Linked DNA regions of Homo sapiens. The protein of the gene in region 4 interacts with the protein of the main gene of each other region in a biochemical or structural test. Each region holds a gene or a part of one and is shown on either strand. Other genes may lie near its edges.

Region 1 (7,023 bases), on a different chromosome or scaffold from region 4:
GGGAACATGTCTTTATTAAAGATGCAAGCAAGCACAGAAGGATCATGTGTAGTGCTCAGTAACATCCATACAGTACTAAAAATAGAAAAATATAAATGAAATTTCACAGAAAGCAGCCTCCCTCACAGAAACACAGGCAAGGTGCTGCCGAGCCCACCATGCGATGCCACGTGCCACCTGCCTGGCCACGCTTCTCCCCATTACAAACAAAAACACAAGCTTCTCTCTACACCCGTTTCAAATACAGCACCAAGAACGGAGACCCCTTCCACAGCAGCGACCCTCCTGACCACCACTTTGGGTGCTTTCCAGCCACATAAATGACAGACAACCCCGGTCCCCACGGGGTTGGCTGGCTACTGGCCCCCGACTCTCCATCGCTTCAGCGAATGTGGGTGAGAAAATTAGGCAGTGAAGCAATAAAGACCTCACCTTTACTCCCTCAGATACACGGAGGGATGAGGTGGACAGACACGCAGGCGGCCGTGCCAACCTGATCCGAGTGAAACAGGGCTACACTCGCAAAATGGTCCTCCCACGGCTGAGCGCCTCAGGTGCACAGAACAAACTGAATGATAAAGACCCGGGGATTTTAGAAATTTACTATTAAGCATCTGCTTGCCAGCATTAGTAGGCTATCACTTCAGGAAACAAAGTAAGGCTGTGGAATTCAGCTCAAATTCCGAGCGCAACTCGGTCCTTTGGTGGCCGACTCTCCACCCACTGCATGCAAATGCTCCTGACTGCATTAGACTCCCACCTGCCAGCCTCACCAGGCAGACTTCCCTCAGCACATGCTCCGCGGGCTCCTCTGCATTGGGCCTTTGGAGCCGCCCGCTGGAAGTCTCTGGCAGAAGGACGTCCATTCTGAAGACCTAGTGAACAATTTCTGCTCATTTCAGGAAGGTTCTGAAGAAGTGAACTCCGTCAGAATAAACAAGTGTCCAGATTCCCCCCAACAGACCCAACTCATCCTCTGTTCTCACCACTATCTCAGAACCAAGTGAGAACAGAATGGCTGTGCCTTAGATAATAAAACTACAAAAATAAAGAGTTAACCCTGAGATCTTTCTACCATTCGGGTGTGGCTCGCTCCTGATTCCCCTTGGAAATGAACTTTTATTTGGTTTACTGACATTTATGTAGATTTCCAGTGAAAAGCTCTATAAAATACAATAATACGGGGTTGAAAAGGCAGACATTCTAGTTGCATATATTACAGGCTTTATCCTTACGGTCCAGGCCATTGGAACTGCAATGTGGAGACTGTTTGTAATCAGACATGGAGAGGCTGCACGTTCTAAAGGCGAGACAGCTGCTTTCGGTTGGGAATCATCACACTCCCTCCGCTCACGCCGCTCTTCCCTTCCCCCGCTGTTTCACACGCTGCTTCCAGAGTTTGTCCAGCAAGGAATAAATGAATGCATACAGGACTTTTGGCTAGTAGACTGTCTGGGTATTGTGAGCATGCAGGTTGTTGTTTCTGTTATTATAAATAAAAGTCAAACGTGAGGTCACACTTTCCCATCTTCTGTTTATACACCAAGTCAAACTTCTCATTCATGGAGACGGTGAAGATGTCCTTCCACAGCCCAACTCTTCCTGAAACGCAAACAAGAGAACTGCTGGGGCCACTTGCTGTCCGGCCAGCTACTGAACTAAAGGAAGCCTTGGAAATGGATCTGGAACATTCCAGATCTATTCCTGGATCCCTTTGAACTTGGCCTATGGGGGCAGGAAGGGCCGTCTGAGCTACAGACCAGGTGGTCCCCTAACATTTGTGAAACTACTGGATGCGGCAGAACATGACCTGAACCAGCTTCCCTCTGAGGCTGTGGCACAGTGAGCCACAACCACCTCCTGGTGCCATTCCACACCCCCCGCTGGGGCCCACCAGGGAGACTCTACTCCTGTTCAGTGCTGGGTCCCCAGCACCTAGAACGGCACCTGGCACGTGGCAGGTGTTTAATAAACATCCCAGGAGCGAGTATGATCTGCCGCGGGAGTGCACTGCTCTGGGCATCACAGGCAGCCCTGGCCCTTCCCACGCCATTATCCACTCACAGCTCAACAGTGCCACCAAGGCGTCATTGGCTTCGGGAGAATTTGAAAAGGAAAAAAAAATCATTCAAAGTGCAGAAAATTTTACACTAAGTAGGAAGCCCTCCTGACTGGGCCAAAGATGCAGATTTCAAGAAGCCTGCCCTGGCAAACCCTGGGGAGGAATTTAAAGTGAATCAAATAGTCGCAGCATTAGCTAGCTTTACAGACTAGATGCAAAACATGCACTGCAGTGAGAATTCCCTGAGTCAACAATAAAATGAGTCTGGGCACAGCCCCCAGCTGCTCTAGCCCAGGCTTAGTCAGAAACCCAGACCTCTTCCTGGCAGCCACAAGGGAGGGCTGAGCTGTGGGATAAACTGCAGGCACCGGTCTACGCTGGTTTATGAAGGCTTTGGAAAAACGAAAGACAGCTCAACATGACAAGAGAAGTTGTTGCTCCCATTGTCTTTGTTAATATAAAATCTTAGGTTGGTCTAGTCCAATAGCAACGGTGACCGTGAAGATGTCTGGGGCGGGGATTCCAAACTTCCCAGTTATGGGAGCTGTGAGCACATCACCCGAGTACTGCCTCCCTGCTTTTGAAGAACTGCTCGTTTAGAATTCTTTCCATTGTCAGCTCTCTGAGATCAGAGCTCTGTCTCCAGCAAATGTCCTTCACTAGCTCCGTTATTAACAGCGGTCCTTGTCCAGGCAGGACCTCAGGTTTTTCAAACTGCAACCCTGCAAATGCTGAGCTAAAATACCCAACGTAACACGGACTTTCTCTTTGGTAACAAAAAATTATCAGTGTTGGAGAGAAAAACAAGAAAAATTATTCTTGTAACCCTTTAATGATACCTAAGGGGCAAAATTAGAAGCTGCTAGAGCAACCAAACTATTTTTCCATGATTATTTTTCTCAGCTGAGACAGCTGAGAGCTCGTCAGAGGAGTCACCCACCTGGTTTAGGATTTGGAATCAAGACAATTTATGCTGTGACATGAATCAAATCTAAGCAATGCAGCTGGCTACTCGGCCCTGCATTCTCACCAACTCAAGAAGATCTTCCGAGCAAAGACGCAATGTGCTAAAAGAAAACAAATCAAAGAACTGAAATAAAGCAAAACCAAGGTAAACCATGATAAAGCAAACCCAAGGGAAGGAGCATATGGGCACACAGTATGTTCTCGACGCTGCTTCACCACACACACACACACACACACACACACGTGAACCAAAAGGGGTATTTTGGAGAAGGTCACATCCAAGGATAACAAAACACAGCAAAAGCAAAACTAAAAAAGAGCAAATAAATGTTAAATAACAAATATTTATGAAAATGCAGCCAGGAAAGAAGTCGAGAGGGACTGTGGTTCAGTTCACTTCCTCCTGAGGAGTCCACTGCTCTGCCTTTATAAGAGACGGCACTTTGCACTTGACCTTCAAACCGCCCTTAGCCGTGATCAGCCCCTTTTCAGAGAAGAACAAAAAGCCGCAGAAGCTGAAGGCCTGACCTATGTTGCGTTCCCAGAGGGCAGCAGAGCTGAGCTGGAGCCCAGCGCGTCTCTCATCCGCCCCAGGCATCTCCCACTCCATCTTGTGGGGCTGCTGCTGAACAGAGCCATCCACGTTTCTGGGCCCTCCCTGCAAACATTCTCAACCCAGGAAGTGCCCAACACACCAAGTGTCCATCAGGTTCATACTTACCAACAGGGGGCCTCCTATGGCCAAGGCCAGCACCCTGGGATTCAGGGGTTTTAGAGCCTGGGCTCTCCATCATCAAAGCCAAATGCCACACACCCTTAAGGACAGGGGGAGCAACCCAGGTGGATCTGGGGAGGATTCCTGTCAGGAACACTGTCCCCATCTCCAGCTGCCTCATGCCCACTGTCACTTGCCGCCAAGAGCAGGAACTGGCCTCCCTCTGTGCAGCGGCTTAGCTTGGTACTGTCTGCTTAAGTTCACCACCCCGAAGTGGGGCTAGGCCTCACCTGTGCTGCCTGCACCCAGAAGATGCTCAGTCAGCGTCCACTCAGTGAAGGAAGAAAAACGGTGTCTCCTAACTTCCCGCCCACTTCATTTAACTCTCCCACAAGTCAGTTAGAGACTGAGAAACCCATCAGCATGCTTTGCGCTTTGACATGTCATAGCACCAAACCCAGTCCCTGGATCTGCTCTGTGGGGCGTTTGATTTCAGGCCATCTGAGTAGACTCCCTGCTGAGAAACATCCCGCCCACAAAGCCTGAAATGCACTTTTTCAAGTCAAAACACTGTTTGCTTGGAGGCAATGCAAACACCAGCGGGCAGGGTACTCCGTCACTCCATGAGCACTGTGCCATCCATGGGCACCAGCTAACAGAGCACAGGCCATGGGCCAGCTACAGACTGCTGTAAAAGGAGAGCAGGGAGGGCAACAGGGACCGGACTCGGCTCCCTAAGCAGGCAGAGAAAGCAGCCTGGCTGGGGTGGGGAGTGCCTGGGCGGGAGGCAGGGTGGGGCACGTACCCCGGCCCACGGGCAGGGCCTCAGCGTTGCAGCACTGGTCCACCAGCTGGTGGCAGTGCTCCGTCAGGGCTTCCAGCTGGGCCTTGTCACAGGACACCCCCAGGAATCTGGCCAGCTGCTCCACCATCGTCACCAGGTCCTGGAAGACAAGTGCAGAGAGCAGAGCAGCCCATCAGAGGCGGGGCCTTTTACTGGACACGACCCCAGGCTGGGCACACGCTGAGGACTTTTTACACACGGCCTTCCTTACTTAATGCTCACAAGGCTGACATCAGCCTTGTCCAGAAATAACACTAAGAGGTTAAGAAATCGCCCAAGTGTGCTCAGCTCTCACGTGGAGATCTTGAATTCAAACCCTGGTCCTCCAGGGAATTGGGTTGCAGACATGAGGTCTTAATAGAGGTGTGGTTAAGTTTTAACAGGAGCAAGAAGTAAAAAACATATTTCAGAACATGGTTCTTGTGAGGAGCAAGACCTAATGGGCTCCTCTTTCCCTTCCTGCTGCCTGTCAGCTGGCGTCTGGGCTGGCCCTTGGGAGCGCAGGGAGGCCCCTCTGGTCTCCAGATGGCCCTGCACTGGGCAGGGAGCCCGCTTCATCACAGGCAAGATTCCGTCATGCCTGCCATACCCTGCCCCATTATTTTACCACGCCTGACAGCGGAATGTCACTGATGTGGCTAACCGTCTTGAGGGGGCCATTCCCCAGCCCCCCACCCCTGCCACTTTCTCCCCAAGAGATGAGGCTCCTCGTCTTCTCAATCACAGCCCTGAGCTGTCACCTAGAGGTGCCTTGGTCCCATTAGGAAGATGCTGGAGGCTGTTTCCTCTCTGGAAGGTTTGTAAAGCAAATTCCCGCATTAAAGCCTCTAAAAAGTCCTACAGTGAAAAGATGATTTAATTTCTTTATTGCAGCACTTCGGAAACCTTAAAAGACAATGTTCTCTGACCGCTGGTGTGGGAGTCAGCTGGTGTGGGCGCCAGCTCCTCCCTGGGTCCCCACAGTGCGCTGACTCCTGCAGCAGCGGTTGCAGGTCTGATTCTGGCCTCGCACTGCCTTCCACAGGCAGGGGTGTGGTGCATCCCGGGCGCAGGGCTTGACTCAAGAGTCAGAGGAACAGTTATTAGAGAATGAGCCAAGGAATACAGAGCTCCCTTTCCCTTGCCCTGCCACCAAGAACTCCATTTCAAAGAAAAAGGGTAGCAATGGAGAAAGAGTGAAGAAACCTGGCTCTCAGAAGAGATGCCGCAAGAAGGACACAGCTGGCTTAAAGTCAGCCTGCTGGAGCGTTCAGCAGAATCCTCGTGGGGCAGCTCACTGCGGCGTGACGTCCATCTCAGAGGAAGGGGCGTTTCTGCCAGGCTACATCCAGCAACATGTCACAGGACACTTGCTGGTTATGAAACCCAGCAGGGATCAGGCAGAACGCCCAGGTCAGCTGGCAGGAACGGCCCACTTCACCTCTCTGAGCCACACATTCCCCATCTGGAACTAGCGACAGGGCCGCAGCAAGAGGCCGCACACCACGGCACGGAGCCAGCGTGTTGGGGTCGTGCCTCCACATGGGCAGGTACTAGCTGGCCACACGGTTGCAGTCAGGGCACCCCGTGACTGGTGAGAACACCCTGCAAGATGACTGAGGATGAAGTGGGAATATACCCGGGGTGCCTGGCACAGTGCCCGGCTCGTGGGAAAGGGCCACTGTAATTGCGGTGCAGTGGAGCGCAGGCAGTGAGCGCTCTGGCAGGAAGCATTCCCTCTCAACCCCAGGGTGAGAACACATGGACCCACACCACAGTCCTGGAGACAACCATGCTCACTCGGGGCTAGTTTTCTGGAGTAAGATGTAAACAATATTAATTCCTAAAAATGTGACTTGACCTCCATTAAAACAAGCCATTACTGAGGTTCCTAAAAAAAGAATAAACCCATGCCAATTAGAAGGCGAAACGCTGACTGTCCCAGGGATGCCATTGAGTCACAGACCGGCTTTGATAGAAAATGAAGTCCCAGCACTGACCCCGGCAGCTCTTAAAGTTCCAGGCAGGGCTGGTGGCCTTGACCCTGACGGACTGAAAGCAACAGGTCTGACCACTTTCACTGGGGAGCCTGGAAGGCAGAGAAGGATGAACTTCCCTTTAAGGGCTTGGAGTAAAGTGTGTGTTTGGACCTTAAAACTTCAGTCCATCATTGCTGAGGAAACTGAAGCTCCAGGAAGAAACTGCTGACCCGGCAGCTGCCCCCGAGATGTGTGGGCAGCTGGCCAGCTGGGCGCTTTCCCTATTCACCTTCTCATGTTGGGGCCTCAGTGGCCCTGGGCAGTGCATGTTCAATGCTATGTCATTGGTGGCAAAATAGTGACCAGCTGACAAATGCACACCCAGGACCCCAGAAATTCCACTCCTGGGTATGGGCCCGATAAGCACAAGTGCTGACGTCCACCAAGACTCCAGAACGTCCACGGAGGCTTTATTCAT
Region 2 (7,290 bases), on a different chromosome or scaffold from region 4:
GATCAAAGGGCTGGAAAAGACTGAGATGTTTGGTCAATTTTTCTACCTACTAGTGGCATCAGACCTGAGATCTCTACTTCAAGAATTCATAACCTTTGAAGTTAACCTAGTTAAACCCAAACATTTTAGATCCTCTTCCAACACTGTTCACAGACATCAAATTTTAGCTGCTGACAATGAATGATGGGACATGGGGGTTATTGCCCTATTCCGTCTGTTAATATGTTTGAAATGTGCCATAATAAACTTTTAAAAATTAGATTATCACAGTACCCAACCTAAGGCATCAAAATGTGTTTGATCAAGCTGGGTGCAGTGGCTCATGCCTGTAATCCCAGCACTTTGGGAAGCCGAGGCAGGCAAATCACTTGAGGCCAGGAATTTGAGACCAGCCTAGTCAACATGGCAAAACCCTGTCTCCACTAAAAATACAAAAAAATTAGCCAGGCACAGTGGCGCGCACCTGTAAGACCAGCTACTCAGGACACAGAGGCATGAGAATCGCTTGAACCCAGGAGGCAGAGGCTGCAGTGATCAGAGATGGCACCACTGTACTCCAGCCTCGGCAACAGAGCAAGACTCTCTCAAAACAAAAACAAAACCAATTAGCCAATTGGAGAAATCTGATGGACTGGGCATCAAATGATATTACAGGGTTACTATAAAAAAAAATGTGTTTGACCAATCACATAAATTGAATATACCACATAGTAAAATGTGTGACTCCTAAGCTGGACATAGCGGTGGCGGCACACGCCTGTAGTCTAACTACTCAGGATGCTGAAACTAAAGGATCACTTGAGCCCAAGCGTTTGAGGTTGTAGTAAGCTATAATAGTGCCACTGCACTCCAGCCTGGGTGACAGAGCAAGACCCCATCTCTAAAACAAACAAACCATAAATGCATAAATTTAAAATAAATGTGAAGTCAACCAACTATTTTAAAATAAAATAAAATGTGTGACTCCTGATAATCTATGCTGTCCTGACCATAAAACAGGAAGTTAACATTTTAGAACCCCTAAAATAAAATGCCATTCAAACACAGCCACATTTCAGTGAAACCAGCCACATTTTAAAGGAATCAGAAAATCCCTTTCCATTACAATGCAACTAGAAGGCCTGCATAAGTGGAGGGCCCTTCTAACAGAATTCCACAGTTCCCCAACCCAGAATTCCCGAATTATTTACACTTTCCCATAATTAACACCCTTATCTTTTTTAATATGCAGGTTTGGTTGTTTTAACTGAAAGCATATAACTTAAATAGTGAACCAAAATAACCCAAACTCTTATTCAGCACATCTCACAGAATACACATTTTCAATATTCCAGATTAGCAGGATGGAGAGTTCAGGAGAGAGATCAAAATTTAAATCTGTCAGTGACGACCACACACAGCAGCAGACTGCAAGGTTCTTCTCAATAATGCAAAACATCTTTCATCTATGAATTTTCCCAGTTTTCATGAATTTAAATATCTACAGAAATGTTATAAAAGCTTTAAAATTCCTAAATCCCAGTGCTACTCTATTCCCTATTATTCCAGGACCATTTCCAAAACCAAAGCTACCAGAACAGCTTAGAAATCATTAGGCGGGGTTGAAAAATAGACTCTTAGATTTAAATATACGGTTTTGGTGGGTTTGGTTGTTTCTTTAGGGTTTTTTGTTGTTTTTGTTTTGTTTTGTTTTTTGTTTTGGGGTTTTGTTTGTTTGTTGTTTTTTGAGACAGAGTCTCGCTCTGTCGCCCAGGCTGGAGGTTACTGGCACAATCTCGGCTCACTGCAACCTCTGCCTCCCGGGTTCAAGCGATTCTCCTACCTCAGCCTCCCGAGTAGCTGGGATTATAGGCACCAACCACCGCTCCCGGCTAATTTTTGTATTTGTAGTAGAGATAGGGTTTCTCTATGTTGGCCAGGCTGGTCTCGAACTCCTGGCCTCAGGTGATCTGCCCGCCTTGGCCTCCCAAAGAGCTGGGATTACAGGTGTGAGCCACAGCCCCCGGCCTGTTTTGTTTTTAATTCATACTTTTGTGGACACAAGAACGCATATTTGGTGCAGACTGGCTCCAAGGACAGGATATCTGAAATTATTTGAACTGAAACAATATAGTTGTGCCAATAAAGACAGAAAAGACTAAAGACAATATAAAGCTTGTCATTTAAATGTTTTTTAAAAAATATCTTTCGTACCGTGGTTTTCTTAAAACGACTACTTTATCTACACTAATCATCTGGACCTCTGATGCCCAACCGAGACGAAAGTGCTGAGTGATGACCAGGGGTCGGGTAGCTTGGTCCACAAGAAAAAGAGAAATGTTTTCATCTTGAATTCTTTAGATCCCGACCCCTCCGCGCAGAGTTCAGCGGGCGAGGGCGAGGGGCGTCCTGGGCAGGGGGCGCCCCTCATCCAGCCTAGGCTCCAGTCACGTACGTGCACGCAACTGTCAAAGCTCAGCCCAAGGAGCAACTCTCCGCATCTGTGCATTTCATCCTGAGTCAAGCCCCATAAAAATTGGAATACGTAAAAATGGGCAAAAATTGAACATTTAAAATACAGCAGTGAAAAGGGAGGAGTGCCTGCTCCGGAAATGCTCTAAGCGTGGTTCATCAACACTCCCTGAAGAGCGGACCACGGAGATGCTCCGAGGCTCCGCCATCCCGCACGCAGGACAAAGGTGCTGAGAATGAGGCGCGCTGGTCCTGCACCCTCTGCCGAGAGCCGGAAGCCAGGGGCGCGCCGGGGCCGGTCGGGCACGTGCAGGGGGCTCTCCGGCCGCCGCGCTGCCCCGAAGCCGGCCCTGGGGACTCGCGGCTGCGCGGACCGAGCTCGCGAAGGGGACCAGGCTCGCGGAGGGGCCGCAGCGGCCCCAAGGATGGCGCAGGAAGACCCCCCACGCAAGACAGCCGGTCGCGGGGGTCAGGGGCGGCTCCTCCCGGGCCCGGCCCCGCCCGACTGACCTGTGACGCTGGCCCGGGTGACGCGCTGCACCACGGCCTTCATGGCGGCGGCTGGGGCGAGTGGGGCGGCGCCGCGCTGCGTCCGGCCTCGCGACTCTGAGGGCGGCTCCGCAGCCGGCGCCCTCTGGAGGTGACACCCGGAAGCGCGCCCAACTGGCCGGTCCGACTCGGTCGGCTGCTACCCACCCCACGTCGGCCACGCCCACTCTCGGCCTGGCGATAGGCCCACCCACTCATAGATTGACTCCGCCTATGCCTGCCACGCCCACCTGCTGCCCAACCGTAACCCCGCCCGTCATTGAAAAGCCCAGTCCCCACGCTCGGCCCTGCCCCATCCACATCTGGGTCCCGCCAGAGCCCTTTGATCCCCCCATCCCGGGCCCAGCCCCTACCCAGTGCCCAGAACCCACTCTGCCCCGAAGGTAGTCTCTATGCTGGTTTTTTTCTCCCACATACCCGAACCTAAGAACCCGTCATCACTAAGCCTTTAAATTCAGCCTGAATCCTATTTCTAATTGTATTCCTCTTTCCTCTTCCACTCCTCTGCACGCAGATCCTCCCAAATTCTTCTTCCTTGTCTTCCTGCCTCAGTGGCTTTTCAGATACCACATACAAAAGGATCTGCTGCCTAAAATAGCCATTTACCTATCTCACTATTAATTCGACTTAGCCATGTCATGATAATAAATAGGTATGTGATTCTAGAATTCTAATTTCTCATGTAATATAAATGCTACTAATTGGCCCCCTCACTGGGTTGTTAGATTTAAATGAACCAAACCACGTAAAAGTGCTTAGATGGCAGCAAAGGGCTGTACAACTATTACCCCAACAAATTATTATCATTGCTAAAAATAATTCCATCTCAGCAGTCTTCACCTTAAAGGTGACTAATAGCATTGGTGGGCGTAGAAAAGGCACTGAAATTGAGAAGAAACCCTCACTTGCCCAGAAAAGACTACAAACTAGTGTGCTTGTTTGTTAAATACTGAATACTAAATTGCCTTAATAACGTTGTCAAAGTTAACATAACCAGTAACAAGACATCATGTGCCTCCTGATATTGCACTGGGAAGGACACAACATCAATCTTGTGGTATTTCTGCCAAATAATGTATAACCTGAATCCAATCATGATGAAACATAGGACAAAAATAAATTGAGGAACATTCTACAAAATAACCAGGTAGGATTCCGAGAATTAAGGAGGATTTTTTTTTTTTTTTTTTTTGAGATGCAGTTTTGCTCTTGTGGCCCAGGCTGAAGTGCAATGGTGTGATCTTGGCTATCCACAACTTCTGCCTCCTGGGTTCAAGCAATTCTTCTGCCTCAACCTCCTGAGTAGCTGGGATTACAAGCATGCGCCGCCACGCCCGGCTAATTTTGTATTTTTATTAAAGATGAGATTTCTCCATGTTGGTCAGGCTGGTCTCGAACTCCCGACCTCAGGTGATCTGCCCGCTTTGGCCTCCCAAAGTGCTGGGATTACAGGCATGAGCCACTGCGCCCAGCCGTGGACTTTTTAAAAGACAGGAAAACTACCTGTAATCCCAGCACTTTGGGAGGTCAAGGTGGGCGGATCATTGGAGGTCAGGAGTTCGAGGCCTGCCTGGCCAACATGGTGAAACCCCGTCTCTACTAAAAATACAAAAATTAGCCAGGCATGGCAGCGCATGCCTGTAATCCCAGCTACTCGGGAGGCTGAGGCAAGAAAATTGCTTGAACCCGGGAGGCGGAGGTTACGGTGAGCCGATATCGTGCCACTGCACTCCAGCCTGGGTGACAAAGCAAGACTCTGTCTCAAAAAAAAAAAAAAAAAAAAAAAAGACAGGAAAACTAAATTAACCTGGGTGGTATCCTGGCCAGAAAAATCAAGAAAAGGAAAAGCTTATTATTGGAACAACTGGTAAAATTTGAGTTTTTGAAAAATCAGCAGGTCTCAATATTTTGATCACAGGATCCCTTTACATTCTTAAAAATTATTGGGCACAAAGTATAGCTTTTGTTTAGGTGGATTATATCTAAAAATGTTTACTGTTTTTAACTAAGAGAAATAGTTAACATGGATTTATCAATGCATTTAAAAATAGCAATAATAAATCCCCTACATATGAATATCAGAGCAATGAAGTCACTATATGTCACGGAGCCCCTGGAAAACTCCATTGTGCACTCCTGAAAGAATAAGACTAAAAAAGGGAAAATTGGGCTGGTCGTGGTGGTTCACGCCTGTAATTCCAGCACTTTGGGAGGCTGAGGCAGGTGGATCACTTGAGGTCAGGAGTTCAAGACCAGCCTGGCCAACATGGTGAAACCCCATCTCTACTAAAAATACAAAAATTAGCCAGGCGTGATGGTGGGCACCTATAATCCCAGCTACTTGGGAGGCTGAGGCACAGGAATCACTTGAAACCGAGAGGCGGAGGTTGCAGTGAGCCAGGATCACTGCCACTGCACTCCAGCCTGGGTGACAAAGTAAACCTGTGTCTCAAAAAAAAAAAAAAAAGTTAACATACTTAAAATGGAATTCAAAATGTTCACCCCTATGGTACAATAAAGACTTTGGCCTTTGTTAATTCTGGGTTTCTGGCATGGAGCTTTAAAAATTCTTGGAATTTCTCAAGAGACAGGAGTATCTTTGTTATTCATGAGCTCCTTGATTATTCCTGAGTTTACTAACAAGACAATTCAGATTGGGAGCTGGTCACTGGAAAGACCAATAGTGACTGGATGTCTGAGCCAGCCCAACCTGTGGGAGGGGTAGAAGACAGAGATTGAGTTCAACCTGTGGCCAATGATTCAATCAGTCATGCTTACATGATGAAATCCCAGGAAAGACTCTGGACATTGAAGCTTCATTGAGCTTCCTGGTTGCTGAACACATTGATGTGCTGGGAGGGTAATGGCCCTGATTCCGCAGGGAGAAAGCACAGAGGCTCTGTGTTTGGTACTCTCGCAGACCTTGCCTAACATATCTCATTTGACTGGTCCTAATTTGTATTATTTATAATAAAACTATAAATGATAATTACAGCACTTTCCTCAGTTCCATGAGTGATTCTAGTGCATTATCAACCCTAGGGAGTCATGGATACTCCTGACTGTGTAGCCAGTTGGTCTGAAGTGCAAGTGGTTTGGGGACACCCAAGTGTGGTTGGCACCTGAAATAGGGGCAATCTTTTTGGGAAACGTACCCTTAAACTTGCAGGATCTGTTCTAACTCCAGGTGATTCCTGCCAGAGTTGAACTGCAATTCACCAGTTGGTGTTCAATGAACCCCGAAGCCCTTCATACTCCACCATAAGAGTCATACCTTTTTTTTTTTTTTTTTTTTTGGAGACAGAGTCTCGCTCTGTCACCCAGGCTGGAGTGCAATGGCTCGTTCTGGCTCACTGCAACCTCCACCTTCCAGGCTCAAGTGATTCTCCTGCCTCAGACTTCTGAGTAGCTGGGATTACAGGTGCTGCCACCATGCCCAGCTAATTTTTGTATTTTTAGTAGAGATGGGGTTTCACCATGTTGGCCAGGCTGTTCTCAAACTCCTCACCTCAAGTAATCCGCCTGCCGTGGCCTCCCAAAGTGCTGGGATTACAGGCATGGGCCATCGCACCTGGAAAATCCCCACTTAAATAAGTGGCTCCACTTGTTTACTGGAGCCAGAAGTAACCTGTGATTGCTCTCTTCCCCATTCCCTAAGTATCTCGTCCATCAGCAAATCTTCTCCCTCTCCAAAACCTATCCCAAAGTGCCCTCTTCTCTCCATCCCTCCTGCAGCATCCTGCTCCACCATTCTTTCCCACTTGGATTTCTACCACACCTTCCTCACTGGTCTTCCTACCTCCCCTTTGTCCTTCTCCAATCCATTCTCCAGGCACAGATGAAAGTGATGCTCTTAGAATATAAAGTCTTAACAATCCAGACTCTGACCACCTTTAAATTCCTCAAATAGTCTTTGGTTGCTAGCTCAGGACTTTAGGATCTGCTCTTGCTCCACCTGGAACAGGTAGGTTCCTCTACATTCATTCACTCTTTGTACAACACACTCCTCTCCTGCCTTTAGGTATTCAGCTTCAATGCCACCTCCTCAGATAGACCTTCTCTGTCCACACCAAGAAAAGTAGGTGTTCCTGCTCCCTGTTTTTCTCATGTTTGTCCTGTGGGTTTTCTCTCATAATCTTCTGGCTACTTTCAATGAGTCTATTTGCCTGGTAAGCTGTGTTCTTCTACCTGTGTCTCTCATGCTTACCACTGAATCCTCAGCATCTAACACAGTACCTGGGGCTCAGGTAATATTGCCAAAGGAATAAGTGTGAGAAGCCAATTTTTTGG
Region 3 (7,023 bases), on a different chromosome or scaffold from region 4:
TGCTCCCTGAAAACTGACTTTCAGCTCAAAATGCCTCTCACTGAAATGCCGTGCTCTCTCTTTTTATTTATTTTCAATCTATTGGCCCAGACTTGCTCCTCCACCTCTGAAATTGTCTGATTTTTCTTCTTTAGAACAGCCACCTCAAACTGTAAACCCTAAACAAAAAGGAAGTCAGCTCATTATCTGAGTTATTAACTAAGAGGAGATGAAGTTCTCTGTCAAACTGGGAAAGAAGCCATCTCAAGGTAACAGGCTAGTTCTACCAAATACTTACTCATCTTACTTGCAGCCATGATACAAATAAATATTTACGGTTTCTCCATAGAATGTCACAAAGATAAGTCTCCTGCACATATTTTGTTTTGTTTTTAATTGAGATAGGGTCTTGTTATGTTGCCCAGGCTGGTCTCGAACTCCTGGCCTCAAGCAATCCTCTTGCCTTGGCCTTCCGGAGTGCTGTGATTACAGACATGAGCCACTGCCTTCAGCCCTGTTGCATATATTATCCAGGATATGGGCAGTTTTACAATACAGATTTTTAGCTCTAGTTCCTTGACAACTCAGACTTTCTCCAGTTACCTCAGAAAATGAGAATGAGAAGTTGGGCTTTTTTTTTTTAATTCCCAGACCACTGACTGCATCCCCAGCCATTACATAGGTTAGCTTCCCATTATATATTCTCCCGGTACCCAGTCCATTTTCTTCAAAGTACCTAATAAAAATGAGGTTAAATATGAGTGAAATGATCTGTAGAATGTCTTATCTCCCCCCGCTACATCATAAGCTCCATGACAACAGAAATTTTCTCAGTTTCATTCACCATTGTATTCTGTCACCTAAAATAGTTCCTGACAAATAGAACTTGACACATAGAACTTAATCAGTGAGGCCAGGTGTGGTGGCTCACTCCTGTAATCCCAGCACTTTGGGAGGTTGAGGTGGGCAGATCACTTGAGGTCAGGAGTTAGAGACCAGCCTGGCCAGCATGGTGAAACCCTGTCTCTACTAAAAATACAAAAATTAGCTGGGCGAGGTGGTGGGCACCTGTAATCGCAGCTACTTGGGAGGCTGAGGCAGGAGAATCACTTGAACCTGGGAGGCGGAGGTTACAGTGAACCAAGATCGTACTACTGCACTCCAGCCTGGGCGAAAGAGTGAGAGTTTGTCTAAACAAAAAAAAGAGACTGGGCGCGGTGGCTCACGCCTATAATCTCAGCACTTTGGGAGACCGAGGCAGGAGGATCACAATGTCAGGAGATCGATACCATCCTGGCTAACATGGTGAAACCCCATCTCTACTAAAAATACAAAAAATTAGCCGGGCGAGGTGGTGGGCGCCTGTAGTCCCAGCTACTCGGGAGGCTGAGGCAGGAGAATGGCGTGAACCTGGGAGGTGGAGCTTGCAGTTAGCCAAAGATTGCACCACTGCACTCCAGCCTGGGCGACAGAGCAAGACTCCGTCTCAAAAAAAAGAACTTTTAGAAGGAGAATGGAGTGAAGGGATGGATGCATGGATGGACAAATAGATAAACAGAAAAACGGATGATGAATAGAGAGGTGGGTGGATAAATGGAGGGATGGATGGATGAATAAATGAATGTATGTGGTGAATAGACAAATTTCCTACTGGATTTTCAAGCAGCCATCACACCTCCAAATGCCATATGTAAACACTGTGGATGTTGTATTCTCTGTAAAAAGGCTAACATTCTATCTATGGAATTTCACACAATTTCAATGAAGAGATTGGATGAATGAAGTCAAAGAATTCATGTTATTAGAGCAAATGCCAGAACATAAGGGACTTACCTTTGAAGGCGTCAGAGACAAACTTTTCAGCAGATCCCCCTATCTACCCAAGAATTAATTGAACTGCAGAGTTAAAAGGCCAGACCATATATTTTAAATTATACTTAGTAATTTAATGACCTGTATCTGAAAAGTAGCAAAAGAAGATGCGTATTGTGAAAATTATAACATATTGATCTACTTACATATATGTGTGTGTATACACGTGTGTGTGTGTGCATGTGTGATGGAAACAAAGAGACAGAGACAGAAGGATAAGCAGAGACAGAGAGAAGAGAGACCCCAACAGTACAAATGTGTATAAAATTATTTTCAAACCTTCAGTTAATCTTTTGACCAATTGCCTTCTTCTGTATCTTCTATTTTTTTTTTTTTTTTTTTTTTTTTTTGGCCTAGATACACTATAAACATGCTGCATCTGGTTGTGGGCAGTATCTCTGGAGTATCATTAGTGCTTGGAAATAATATATTTTTTAAAAATTATATCCTAAGAATCTATATATCATATCAGCTAGATTTTCAAAGGTCATATTTTCCATATTTACTTAGAAAGGCATTCTGTTGCCCAGTGACAAAGCTTCAGACTCCTCCTGAGTGCTCTACAGTGAAAAATGAATTCGTTGTTGCCTCTCCAACAAATCAGCCCTCCTTTTTAAGACTCAATGTTAACCCACTCAAAGATTCTTATTTCGATTGGGACATTGAGCCTGAAATCCCCCGTCAGGTGGTAAAAAAAAGAAAAAAGCCAAATCATCAAACACGAAGTCAAAAAGCCTCTGCCTTTTATTCACAGAGAAGCCCGCAGGACACATTTAGAATAAGCTAAAAGGTGAGTGGAGTTTGGCTCACAGGTCTCTGGGGTCTGCTTCTGGGAAGAAAGAGAAGTGAAACAATAGAAGTAACCTCTAAACTTGCAGCCTGACTTGGTGATTTTTTGAAAAAATGGACCTCTTTATGATTTTACTAAGAAAATTCAACCTGAAGTGCATGGGGCCATATTATAAGTTTCTAGGGAACACTGCCCAAAATAAAATTAACTTTTGATTCATTTTTTGTTATATAAATACACATATGCTATGCTAATCTACACATGTTAATTACCCACTAAAATAAACTTTATATTTGATAGGGTGAATATTGATAAAAACAAGAATGGTTGGATTCATGTCATGATTTGGGGTTTTTTAAGAATAATTTCAACTACAAGATTTAAAAACCTGTTTTCTAATCTACATGGGAAAAAGAAGAGCTGACTTACTCATTATCATCAATTCTAGCTTTCCATAGAAAATAAAATTAACCTTTTTTGTGATATAAAAAAGTGCAAACTTTTCTAGTCTACATGTGTTAATTACACACTAAAATAAACTTTGATTTGATAGGATTGATATTGATGAAAACAACAATAGTTGGAGTCATGTCAGACTTTGGGGTTTTTTAAGAATAATTTCAATTAGAAGATTTAAAAACATGTTTTCTAATCTACATGGGAAAAGGAAGAGCCAACTTACTCATTATAATCATCAATTCTAGCTTTTCATAGAAAATTTGTACACTGGGGTTTTTCTAGAGAGTCCATGGCAAGTTCAGATCTTTCTCAGAAGAAAAGACAATGCTAACCAGGCATGGGTTTCTGGGCCCAGACACTGAACTGAGCACTCACTGGTGTTACCCAATACCCAGGAAGAAATATACCCAAGAAGAGAAACTATCTAAGTACATGAAAGAGGCCTAGTCATTTAACAAGTTCCAGAATGAACTCCGTCCCACTTTGACACAGTTTCCTACAGCTAATCAAGTAATACTGATGGTCTCACTTAGAGTCATTGATACTTGCTGTGGCTATTTCTCATGCACCACCTCATTATTCTTCACCATAACCCTATGAGTTAGGTGCTATTATCCCCATTTTACAGATGAGGAGACCAAAGTTGCTGCTGGGGGACGACTTGCCCAAGGTCACACAGGGAGTAAGCGGCTCCATCAGAGATACATACCCAATTCTACTGGACTCCAACTCATTGCTAAGAATTCTGAATCTCTATATTTTATTGCCTCTCTATTTCTACCAAAGTCACTTCCTTTACAAAAACAACAAACACTTTGGGAGGCCAAAGCAGAATGAGACTCCTGGCTTGAGGCTGGCAGTTTGAGACCAGGCACAGGCAGCAAAGCAAGATCCACTATCTCTACAAAAAATTTTAAAATTAAAAAATATGTATTTGGCCAGGTTCAGTGGCTCACACCTGTAATCCTAGCACTTTGGGAAGCTAAGGCGGGCAGATCACCTGAGGTCAGGAGTTCGAGACCAGCCTAACCAACGTGGCGAAACCCCACCTCTACTAAAAATATAAAAATTAGCCGGGCATGGTGGCACGTGCCTGTAGTTCCAGCTACTCAAGAGGCTGAGGCACGAGAATCACTTGAACCTGGGAAGTGGAGGTTGCAGTGAGCTAAGATCACGTCACTGCACTCCAGCCTGGATGACAGAGTAAGACTCCGTCTCAAAAAAAAAAAAAAAAAAAAAAAAGGGCCGTGGTGACACACACCTGCAGTCCCAGCTACTCAGGACACTGAGGCAGGAGAATCACTTGAGCCCAGGAGTTTGAGGCTGCAGTGAGCTATGATCATGTCACTGCCCTCCAGCCTGGGCCACACAGTGAGACCCTGTCTCTAAAAACAAAATTTAAAATAAAAGAAGAAGGTTTTTCTCTCTACCAAAAATCTTCTTAGAGAAGACTTTAATTAAAATTAAAGCTCAAATGCAGGTCCTAAGTTCCTGTAAAGAATGCCACAGAAACAGCCAGCACTGTAGCTCATGCCTGTAATCTGAACACTTTGGGAGTCCGAGGCGGGTGGATCACCTGAGGTCAGGAGTTCAAGACCAGCCTGGCCAAAATGATGAAACCCCATCTCTACTAAAAATACAAAAATTAGCCAGGCGTGGTGGCAGGCCCCCGTAATCCCAGCAACCTGGGAGGCTGAGGCAGAAGAATCGCTTGAGCCCCAGGAGATGGAGGTTACCGTGAGTCGAAATGGTGCCACTGCACTGCAGCCTGGGCAACAGAGTGAGACTCTGTCTCAATAAATAAATAAATAAATAAAAGGCAAAGAAAAAAATGCCATAGAGAGAAATCTGCCTTGCTTGTCAAAGGAGTTCCACTTCTACTCTAGAATTTAGGCAATTTTACAATAGGGATCTTCAGCCCCAGTTCCCTGTCATCAAACACATTCTTAAATTACCTCCCAGAGAGTGGTTTTATAAGAAATAGACAGAGTGGAAACAAAAAGGGAGAAATTATGAGGCAGTCAACCTAGAGTTTCGTCCTATCATCATACGAAAGCAAGAAAATCTATTCTTAAGCTCCCCTGAGCACACAGAAATCCATAATTTCCCAAGGTTTATGAGTTTTCCATCCTTCCTCTCCCAACCCATAGCAGTGTCCCCAATTTCCATGACAATGTAATAGAGCCTGAAGGTTACTCTCAATGGTTTCTTTGCCTTGCGATCATCCTACACACCTCCTACCAGAGTGGCAGAGACAACATCCTCTCTCTGCTTGTATTTTTGAAATGGAAACATCCTCTAAATAGTGGCTGCCTGAAATAAACACTACATTTCCCACATGCTCCCTCACAGCAAGGTGTGGGTATGTGATTAAACCCTAGCTAAGAGGATGTAGGTAGAAGGATCTTGAGCAACTTAAACAAGTGACACCGAGCATGTGCTATATGCCCTTCTTTACCCCTTTCTTCCTTCCTGCTAGCTGAAAGAAGGGTGTGAGGACTCCAGCGTCTAGCATCCTTTTTGGACCATGAGATAATTGTCACTCCCCAGGGATAGTGGAGCAGAAAACTCAAAGGAACCTGAGGCCCTGGGCTCTGGATTGCTGACTTAAGTGAGATCATAAAACCTTATGTGTTTTGTATAAACTGTTGATTCCATCGTAAGTGGATTTACTTTCAGAGGAAATATCTGATACCAAGAACAATCAGATACTAAGGAACTCCTCAGTGGTTCCAGAATTAGTCCCAGGCAATGCTGAGTACCAGGGATAAATTTCCCTCTTTCCTATATGTTCCCATTCTAAACATCTCAATTTCAGGGACTGCCAATCTGCCCCTCCCCTCACTCCTCCCTACTGCTGCCCAAATGGAATATGCTGTCAAAGCAGCTACACAGAGTGACCAGAAGTTCATGGCTGAGTTTTGACTCTTACCTGGCAGGCAGTTCCATAGCAAAGCAACCCTGCAGAGCCAGTCTTCTCTCGTGCCAGCTGCCCCACCATTGGGGTAGTCTGGGGACAATCATAAGAGCAGATATTTTCTGAGCATACTCTGTGTCAAGCTCTGGTCCAAGAATCTTGGATATTGCAATGAGTTGGAGCTGCTCAGCCACACTATGGTACTGTTACTGACTCCGTTTTATAGACAAGGAGGCTGAAATACAGAGAGGCTAAGTAATATGCCTGGGAAGTCTCAAAGCTAGGATTCAGACCGACAGGGACTTGCCTGGTAGCCTGTGCAAATGCCCACTTCTCTACGCTGCCTCTTGGTGGGGAGGCAGGGAAGAGAAAAAGAAAGGCAATTTAAAAAATAGACACTCCAGAGGGGCATAGTGGCTCACACCTATAATCCCAACACTTGGGGGCTGAGGTGGGAGGGTTGCTTGAAGCCAGGAGTTCAAGACCAGTCTTGCAACATCACAAGACCCCTTCTCTACAAAAGTTGTTTTAAAATTAGCCAGGCATGGTGGTGCGTACTTGTAGTCCCAATTAATCAGGAGGCTGATGCAGGAGGATCACTTGAGCCCATGAGTTTGAGGCTGCAGTGAGCTCTGATCATACCACTGTACTCCAGCCGGGGCAAAAGAGTGAGACCCTGTCAAAAAAAAAAAAAAGACACTCCTATCTCTAGAGCGCCCATATTTCATTACAAACTTTAATTCTGCCTTTTTCTCTTAACATCAGAAAATTCCTATTATCTTCCAGACTTTGAGTTAAAGGATCTCCTATTTCAAATGTGTCATGCCTTGCACATTCCAAAGTGACTTTCCCATCCATCAATAACAGCAGAGCAGGTGGCATAGAAGATCCGTGGTAAAAATGTTTAAAAATCGCCCCCGATCTCAGCAAGAGACAAAGACTGAAACTGATTCATGGAAGTGAAAGGCAACCTCAAAGAAGAAATTACACATTCCGGTGCCAAGAC
Region 4 (7,023 bases):
GCCCCAGAGACCCTCAACTCCAGCCCAGCAGGGACAGGAGGGGCAGAGGAGGGAGAATAGAGGGCCACCCCCTCACAAACCACAGGTGCATGTTCCACTGTCAAAGCCCATCCAAAGGCTCCCTGGCCAGCTTGGGGCTAAGTTGGGAGTCCAGAGGGGCCCCCTTCACCAAGCACAGCTGCAGTGACCACCCGGGATATGCTATGTGCCAGGCCCTGAGCTGAGGACTTCACATCTGCTGTCCACTGCTGGCAGTCACCCTGTGACTGTCCCCATTTTGTGAATTGAGGAAGCTGGGGCTCAGGGGCTTCAGTAACTTACAACCTTGCAGCTGGGACTGCAGACAGCTAGGATTTAAACCCAGGAAAGGCTCAACCCAAATTGAAACAGCTCGTCTCAGACACTGTGGCCTGAGAGAAGGGGACCTGATGGAGGTCAGTCATGCAGAAATGGGTTAAACATGTGACATGAAAAGACATACCTCACACAAGTGACAGGTGCAAAACAGAGGCTTTAATCTGAACAGCAATGAGGGTGCAAGGGGCTGGGAGCCCATAGGGGGATGGGGGAGCCAGGAAGGGCTGTCTGGCCCTGGGAGAGAGGTGGACGCTGGGCCTCTTCTGAGAAACTGTCACTGACCTTTGGGACTCCTGACCCAGCCTCTGCCCAGACCATCACCGGATCCCAGGCTGAGCCCCTGTGCTGTGCTTCTCAGTGCTCCCCCTTCCTGAAGGGTGTGTGGACCCAGACACAGGAGGGGGCAGTGGAGAAGGGCAGGCCTGGGGGACGAGCCTGTAAGAGCCAGGCCCAGGAACAGCCCTAGGAGAAACCTCGGCGGTGGCCCTCAATGGGCCTGCCCAGCCCCCACTGGGCCCATTCTGAGTGCCAAAGCCTGGGCTTGGGAGGCTGTCTCTTACCTCACCCTATAAAAGCAATGGACAGTTCAGGGAGGTGGGAGGACAAGGTGTGGGACTGCCACCTTCTGGGCCCACCCATCACCCAGGGGAGCAGAGAAGCAGGGCCCAGGGGCCCAGGGTGAGGCTCACAGCAGCGCAAAGGTAGCAGAAGTGGCCGGGCCTAAGACTGCCAAGAGGAATCCAGGCTCTCCAGATACAATGGGCCCCAAGCCCCTCCCTGAGTTTCTGCCATCCCCTCCCTGCCAGGGAAAGTTCTGGAAAGACATGCCTCACCCCATCATCTGGGCCCTCCCAGGAGCCCAGCACCTACCCAAAGGGCAGCTTCCATTGGCTAGGTTACCCTTAGGGAGCGGGAGAGATGTGGCTACAGTCAGGAAACCCAGCAGAGCCAAGGGCTAGAGAACTGAAGAGCCAGGGGGAGGCTTGGACACAGGGGGCCTCAGGCCCAGGGGGCAGGGTGAAAAGGAGCCTGGGAGGGGCACCAGCCAGGACAGCTAAGGCCTCTCCACCACCCGACCCCACCCACCCCACCCCAGCCCACAGCTGGCGGCCAGCCTCAGCTTCCAGCCCTACCATAGATGGCCACCCCGGCATGGCCTGGGAAACTGACCCGCCCCTGCAAGGAGCAGCTCCAACCCTTAGAAAGGCATCGACTCCAGGAAGGGAAAAGCAATGGAAGCAGCAGGTATCTCTCCTCCCTTCCCTGCGGTGCTGCAGAACAGCCCCTGCTCTCAAAACCAGACTGGACGGGAGTGAAGGGAGAAGAGGCCAGAAACAGGAGAGAGTGGCCGAGTGACCAGGCCCCAGACCCTCTCTTCTGGCCAGTCTAGCACACGGGAACTCAGAAAACTGGCTACACTTTGGTCACTTCTCCCAACTTGGGCCCTGAAGCCTTATGCTCTGAGCCCCCTCAAGCCCATCTCGCCACCCCACCCCAGTAAACAGCCTCTCATCAAACGGGACGAACAGAGGGAGGGGATGGGGAGGGGCCACTGCTGGGGTGGGGAAGGCAGGCACAGGAACTGTGGCCTGGGTGGCTCTTCGGCTTGGCCCCTCCTAGCCCGACGTGACAGGATGGATGGGCAGCAGGCTCCCGAACTTGAAGTGCTGGATCACAGGGAACTTCTCCAGGCACTGTGAGGAAGGAGCAGGTGAGCAGAGTGGTGAGGGCCACACCACACCCCTGCCAGGACCCCAACAACCGCAGCAGCTCCCAGGTGTCCATCCCGGGCCCAGGAAGTAGCCCCGCCAGGGGATCCCCCAGGCCTTCCTCCCCCAGTTCCTCACTCCTTCTATCCAAAGACACCCACTCCACAACGAGACCCACGAGAGAGAGAAAGAGAAAAGGCAGCCCAAACCTACAAGGTAGAAACCGAGAAGAGAGGCAGCCAGGTGCCATCACTTGGCCCAGAGAGGGAAGTTGGGAACCTGAGGTGGAAAGAACCCTCCTGATCACTGGGGACCCCCAGCCCAGGTCCCAGTTCTAGAGAAGAGACGTGGGGACATTTGAACGTAAGCCTAAGAGGCTGAGGCCGGGTCCCAAAGCCTGTTTTCTCCAGCTTTCAGTTCTCTGGACTGAAAAAGGCATCTTGGCACTTCAGAGCGAGACAATAAGAACCAGCTGACACTGAGTTCCCCCCACCCCTGGGCAATTCCCAGCAGCCTGTGTGGGGGGCAGGGGAAAAAGAGCGCTGAACAGGGGAATGGCTGAGCACGGGGGAGGCCCGACTCCCTGAGCCCAGCCCAGCCCGGGCTCCTAGCAGAGGAGCAGAGCTGGAGAGCAAGTGACAGGGCCTATCACAGAAGCTGGCCTGGCCCACAGGCAGCCAACCCCAGCTTCCAGCTGCAGCTCCCGCAACAGCACCCCCATGCCTGCCACACCTGGACACTAGCTCTCACAGGAGCCGTTCTGGGCATGCGAGGGTTGGATCTGCCAAGACTGACCAGGGCCTCCTCCCACACCTTTGGCCACAGAAAACAGAGTATGTTAGGCACCTCCTGGCTGGGGTGGAACAAGACTTATGGCCTCAGAGAGAGTAAGAGCCTCACTCTGTGGCTGTGATCTTAACCTCCAACTAACTTAGAGACAAACGGGTGCTATGACTGGCCCAGGTTCCCTCTCCTCAAAAATCAGCTGTGGAACCTAAGAGGGAGAAGCACCAGGGTGACGAGTGGGCCAAAGAGGCGCCAGGAGGGGAGGGAAAGAAGGATGGAAACCAAGCTCATGGTGGGGTGGGGAGCAGAGCCCTGGCCACAGCCAGGATCCTGGGCCTGAGACACAGAATGCGGGAGCAGGGAGCGGGAGGTGGTCCCTGGGCGGGAGGGGGAGCAGCCGCAGATCCAGGCCAGAGGCCAAGGCAGCTGCCATGGTGCTTATGTCATCCCAGAAGTGGTCATAAGAGCCCCCCCACCCCCCAAGGGCCCTGGAATTCCAGAAGGGGTCAAAGGTCAACCTCCCTCTAGCTCCCATAGAAGAAGTTGCAAGGCGAGAAGGGGTGGAGGCAGGGGTTCTTCCCATTCTGCCCACAGGACCCCAGAGCCAGCCCCCTCAGAGCCACAGGAGCTGGGCCAAGGAAGCCTAAGGCTCCAGGGCAGGAGGAGCCTCCAGCCCAGCCTTTCTCCCAGCAAGGCCCTCCCATGTACCTGGGCGGAGCAGCGGCTTCAGACTGCCCCCTGACCTTCCAGCCAGAGGTGATTCAAGCTGGGGAAGGGACTCCCTGGGTCCTGACAAGGTCCTTCTGAAGGCAGCACCCACACAGCCATGGCCCAGAGGAAAGACAGACCCTCCCCCCCGCCGCCCCGCAACCACACAAGGCCCCTGAGAGCACTTGGTTCTTCGGTCAGAAAGGCTGGGACAGAGCAGAGTTAGACCCAAATCCTGAGGCCACCTACTGCCAGGCTGGTCAGACTTCTGTGGCAGCCCAGGAGGCTGACTCCCCTCAATCAACCAGTTCTGACTGGAGACCCAGCCTTCCTACCCACCCCTGGACTGCAAGACTGGCAGGCCTTGGAGGGCCTCCTTAGGGGCTAAGAACTGGCCTGAGAAAACAAGCCCTCTCCTTGGACCTCTGTGTAGGCAACATGCCAGCCCATGGGCCCTTCGGGACCAAGGACTAAGGGCTAGTTGCTAGTAAGTTGTCAATGAGTGTTGAACACTGCAAAGACTTGGTGATCTTTTTTTTTTTTTTTCCTGAGATGGAGTCTCGCTGTTGCCCAGGCTGGAGTGCAGTGGCATGATCTCGGCTCACTGCAACCTCCACCTCCCAAATTCAAGTGACTGTCCTGCCTCAGCCTCCTGAGTAGCTGGAATTACAGGTGCGCACCACGATGCCAGGCTAATTTTTGTATTTTTAGTAGACACAGTGTTTCACCGTGTTGGCCAGGCTGGTCATGAACTCCTGACCTCAGGTGATCTACCTGCCTTGGCCTCCCAAAGTGCTGGGATTATAGGCATGAGCCACCGCACCCAACCAGTGATTTTTTTCTTTGAGACGGAGTCTCACACTGTTGCCCAGGCTGGAGTGCAGTGGTGTGATCTCAATTCACTGCAACCTCCGCCTACCAGGTTCAAGCGATTCTCCCGTCTCAGCCTCCCAAGTAGCTGGGACCACAGGCATGAGCCACCACACCCAGCTAATTTTTATATTTTTAGTAGAGACGGGGTTTCCTCATGTTGCCCAGGTTGGTCTCGAACTCCTGGCCTCAAGTGATCCACCCACCTCAGCCTCCCAAATTGCTGGGATTACAGGCAAAGACTTGGTGATCTTTTTTTTTTTTTTTTTTTGAGAGAGTCTCGCTCTGTCGCCCAGGCTGGAGTGCAGTGGCACCATCTCAGCTCACTGCAAGCTCCACCGCCCGGACTCACGCCATTCTCCTGCCTCTGCCTCCCGAGTAGCTGGGACTACAGGCACCCGCCACCACGCCCGGCTAATTTTTTTATATTTTTAGTAGAGACGGGGTTTCACTGTGTTAGCCAGGATGGTCTCGATCTCCTGACCTCGTGATCCGCCCACCTCGGCCTCCCAAAGTGCTGGGATTACAGGCGTGAGCCACCACGCCCGGCCTGACTTGGTGATCTTAAAGTCAGGGAGTTCCAGCGTCACCCTATACAGGAGCCTGTCCCCTTCCCCACACAGCGCCGGCCTCAACTAGGGCTAGAATCTCCCTTTTTCAGATTACTAGAGAGCTCCCCCATCCTGAGTTGGTCATTTTCAGTGTCCTCTTTGTGTTTGCCACCCTGTGCTCAGCCCCCACGGAGACCCCGACAGCCTGTGCAGAGTGGACAGTCCCTGTGTTCCTGCCACACCATCACCATTTTCAATCCGAATATGCTCCTCCCTCATCCTCTGGCAGCCTGGAGTTCTTTTGTCTCTGGAAGGGCAGGTGAGAGAAGGGGACAGGGTCTCTTGCCCTATCCTTTGGGCCTTAGAGCCTGAGTCGAGAGAAGTTTAGAGTCACTTGAATTAAGAGGCTTGTAGAGAAGACAGTACTTCAGGTACCAAGCAGAGAAGGCAGCCAGAGTCCTCTCTTTGGCACACAAGGGTTGGGGTTGGGAGGTGGCTGGTGGGCGATGTGCACCTCTCACATGCTCAGACACCCTGGAGGCGGGGCACAGCAGAGTGAGAGTTCCCCAGCAGCCCCCACTGTGGGACAGGCGGGGGTGGGGTCAGGAACATCAGGACACCAGAGGGCAGTGACCCAGGGCAGAGTCGGAGTGGAGAGCCGGGGGTGGCCAGCTGCAGCCGGAAGGAACCTAGGCAGCTCCAGCCAACGGGCTCTCAGGCCTCTCAGATTAGAGAGGTATGTGGGCTGGAACCTAAACACAGGATGTGAGGTCCAGAGGAAGGGGACCAAAGGGGGAGGGGGCGGAAGGGAGTGAGGGCCCGGTCTGTTCAGTTCAAGCCTCATTAACCCCTTCAGGACCAAGTGCAGGGAGCCAAGCCAACTGGAAGCATCTGTGCTCCCCCACCCCGCTGGCCTCTGGCACCCTTCCCCGTTGTCCCGCCTCTGCTGATGGGATCCAGGAAGCTCTGGGTCCAATGAAGACCTGGAGCAGCCCCTTCCCAGAAGAGAAGGCCGGCCAGGAGTCAAGAGATGGTGCCCACAGTACAGTGTCTGAGGCCATGAACTAGTCACAAGGGCCAGCCTGAGAACAGAAAGAAGGGACTTTAAGGACCCATCACTCCAGGTGTGGAACTTCACATCCAGCCCTTCCCTGGCCAAGGTCAAGCAGTTCTAGAATTAGTCTTCCCAGGAAGTGGGAGGAGCTAGCAGAAGGGACAGAGTAGAAATAAAATGTCTCCTCCCCACTTGGAAGAGAGAAAAGGCCACCTCCTTGGCTGGGAGAACAGTGCCAAGAGGGCAGGAGACACCCTCGGCTGCCTGCCAGCAGGGGGAGCTCCAGGAAGCCTCAGCTCTCCTCTCCTCAGCATCTGATTTGAGAGCAGGGAAAACCATTTGCATCAAAATCCCTGAAGCGGTCCATAAAAATGCCAATTCTCGGCCTACCCTCAGACCTCCCACCACTCAGTGATCATACACACTAACATTTGAAGGCAGCACTTTGGAGATGCCTCCAAAGGGTAAGACCCTTCCCAGGTATGCCATGGGAGAGCCAGACTCAGACTGCCCGAGCTTTGAGGAGCCTTTGGCCACTTGATAAAGGAGAAGGGAGGCCCCCATCGCCCCCACTCCCCATGCAGCAGGTCCTTGCCTCAGCCTCCAAGCTCATCAGGACAGAGCTGGACTGCAGCTTTTCGGGGCTGGGGTGGCTGGTGCTTCTCTGACTGCCCATGCCCCAGATGGGAGATTCCGAGGCCCCAAGTGTCAGAGGGGCTGGCCTAAGATTCAGAGCAAAACAGTGGGGTAGGAGGAAGCAGGAGCCCCAGGTTCCACATCTTTTGCTTTGTCCCCAGCCCAGGACCAAGTGCGGCAGCAGGGACGGGCACACTGGCCAGCCCCCACTCACCTCGGCCTTATACATGCGGATGAGACCCTGGTTCACTTTGGACCAGGAAGGGACGGCGCTGATGTTCCACAGCTGGTTGGAGTGCTCTGCAAATGGGCCAGTCTTCATCTGAAAAAGAGAAGCCACAAGCTGAAGAGA

What was found.
Region 1: of the proteins of PTPA (region 4) and SULT4A1, one has a biochemical effect on the other in vitro, tested with the Homo sapiens proteins (one study listed by BioGRID).
Region 2: of the proteins of PTPA (region 4) and DTD1, one has a biochemical effect on the other in vitro, tested with the Homo sapiens proteins (one study listed by BioGRID).
Region 3: of the proteins of PTPA (region 4) and PRKCB, one has a biochemical effect on the other in vitro, tested with the Homo sapiens proteins (one study listed by BioGRID).

Annotation. Positions count from the first base shown.
Region 1 is NC_000022.11:43,824,512-43,831,534, forward strand, and holds part of SULT4A1 (sulfotransferase 4A1), read right to left. Parts: intron 4,688-7,023; coding exon 4,549-4,687; intron 3,130-4,548; coding exon of another isoform or gene 3,089-3,129; exon of another isoform or gene 3,003-3,088; intron 1,603-3,002; coding exon 1,490-1,602; 3' UTR 1-1,489. UniProt on the Homo sapiens protein: Atypical sulfotransferase family member with very low affinity for 3'-phospho-5'-adenylyl sulfate (PAPS) and very low catalytic activity towards L-triiodothyronine, thyroxine, estrone, p-nitrophenol, 2-naphthylamine, and 2-beta-naphthol.
Region 2 is NC_000020.11:18,583,787-18,591,076, reverse strand, and holds the start of DTD1 (D-aminoacyl-tRNA deacylase 1), read right to left. Parts: upstream 3,024-7,290; 5' UTR 3,005-3,023; coding exon 2,962-3,004; intron 1-2,961. UniProt on the Homo sapiens protein: Possible ATPase involved in DNA replication, may facilitate loading of CDC45 onto pre-replication complexes. An aminoacyl-tRNA editing enzyme that deacylates mischarged D-aminoacyl-tRNAs.
Region 3 is NC_000016.10:23,838,969-23,845,991, reverse strand, and holds part of PRKCB (protein kinase C beta type), read right to left. Parts: intron 6,395-7,023; exon of another isoform or gene 6,033-6,394; intron 1-6,032. UniProt on the Homo sapiens protein: Calcium-activated, phospholipid- and diacylglycerol (DAG)-dependent serine/threonine-protein kinase involved in various cellular processes such as regulation of the B-cell receptor (BCR) signalosome, oxidative stress-induced apoptosis, androgen receptor-dependent transcription regulation, insulin signaling and endothelial cells proliferation.
Region 4 is NC_000009.12:129,142,415-129,149,437, reverse strand, and holds the end of PTPA (serine/threonine-protein phosphatase 2A activator), read right to left. Parts: intron 6,994-7,023; coding exon 6,886-6,993; coding exon of another isoform or gene 6,538-6,885; exon of another isoform or gene 2,052-6,537; coding exon 1,974-2,051; 3' UTR 492-1,973; downstream 1-491. UniProt on the Homo sapiens protein: PPIases accelerate the folding of proteins. It catalyzes the cis-trans isomerization of proline imidic peptide bonds in oligopeptides. Acts as a regulatory subunit for serine/threonine-protein phosphatase 2A (PP2A).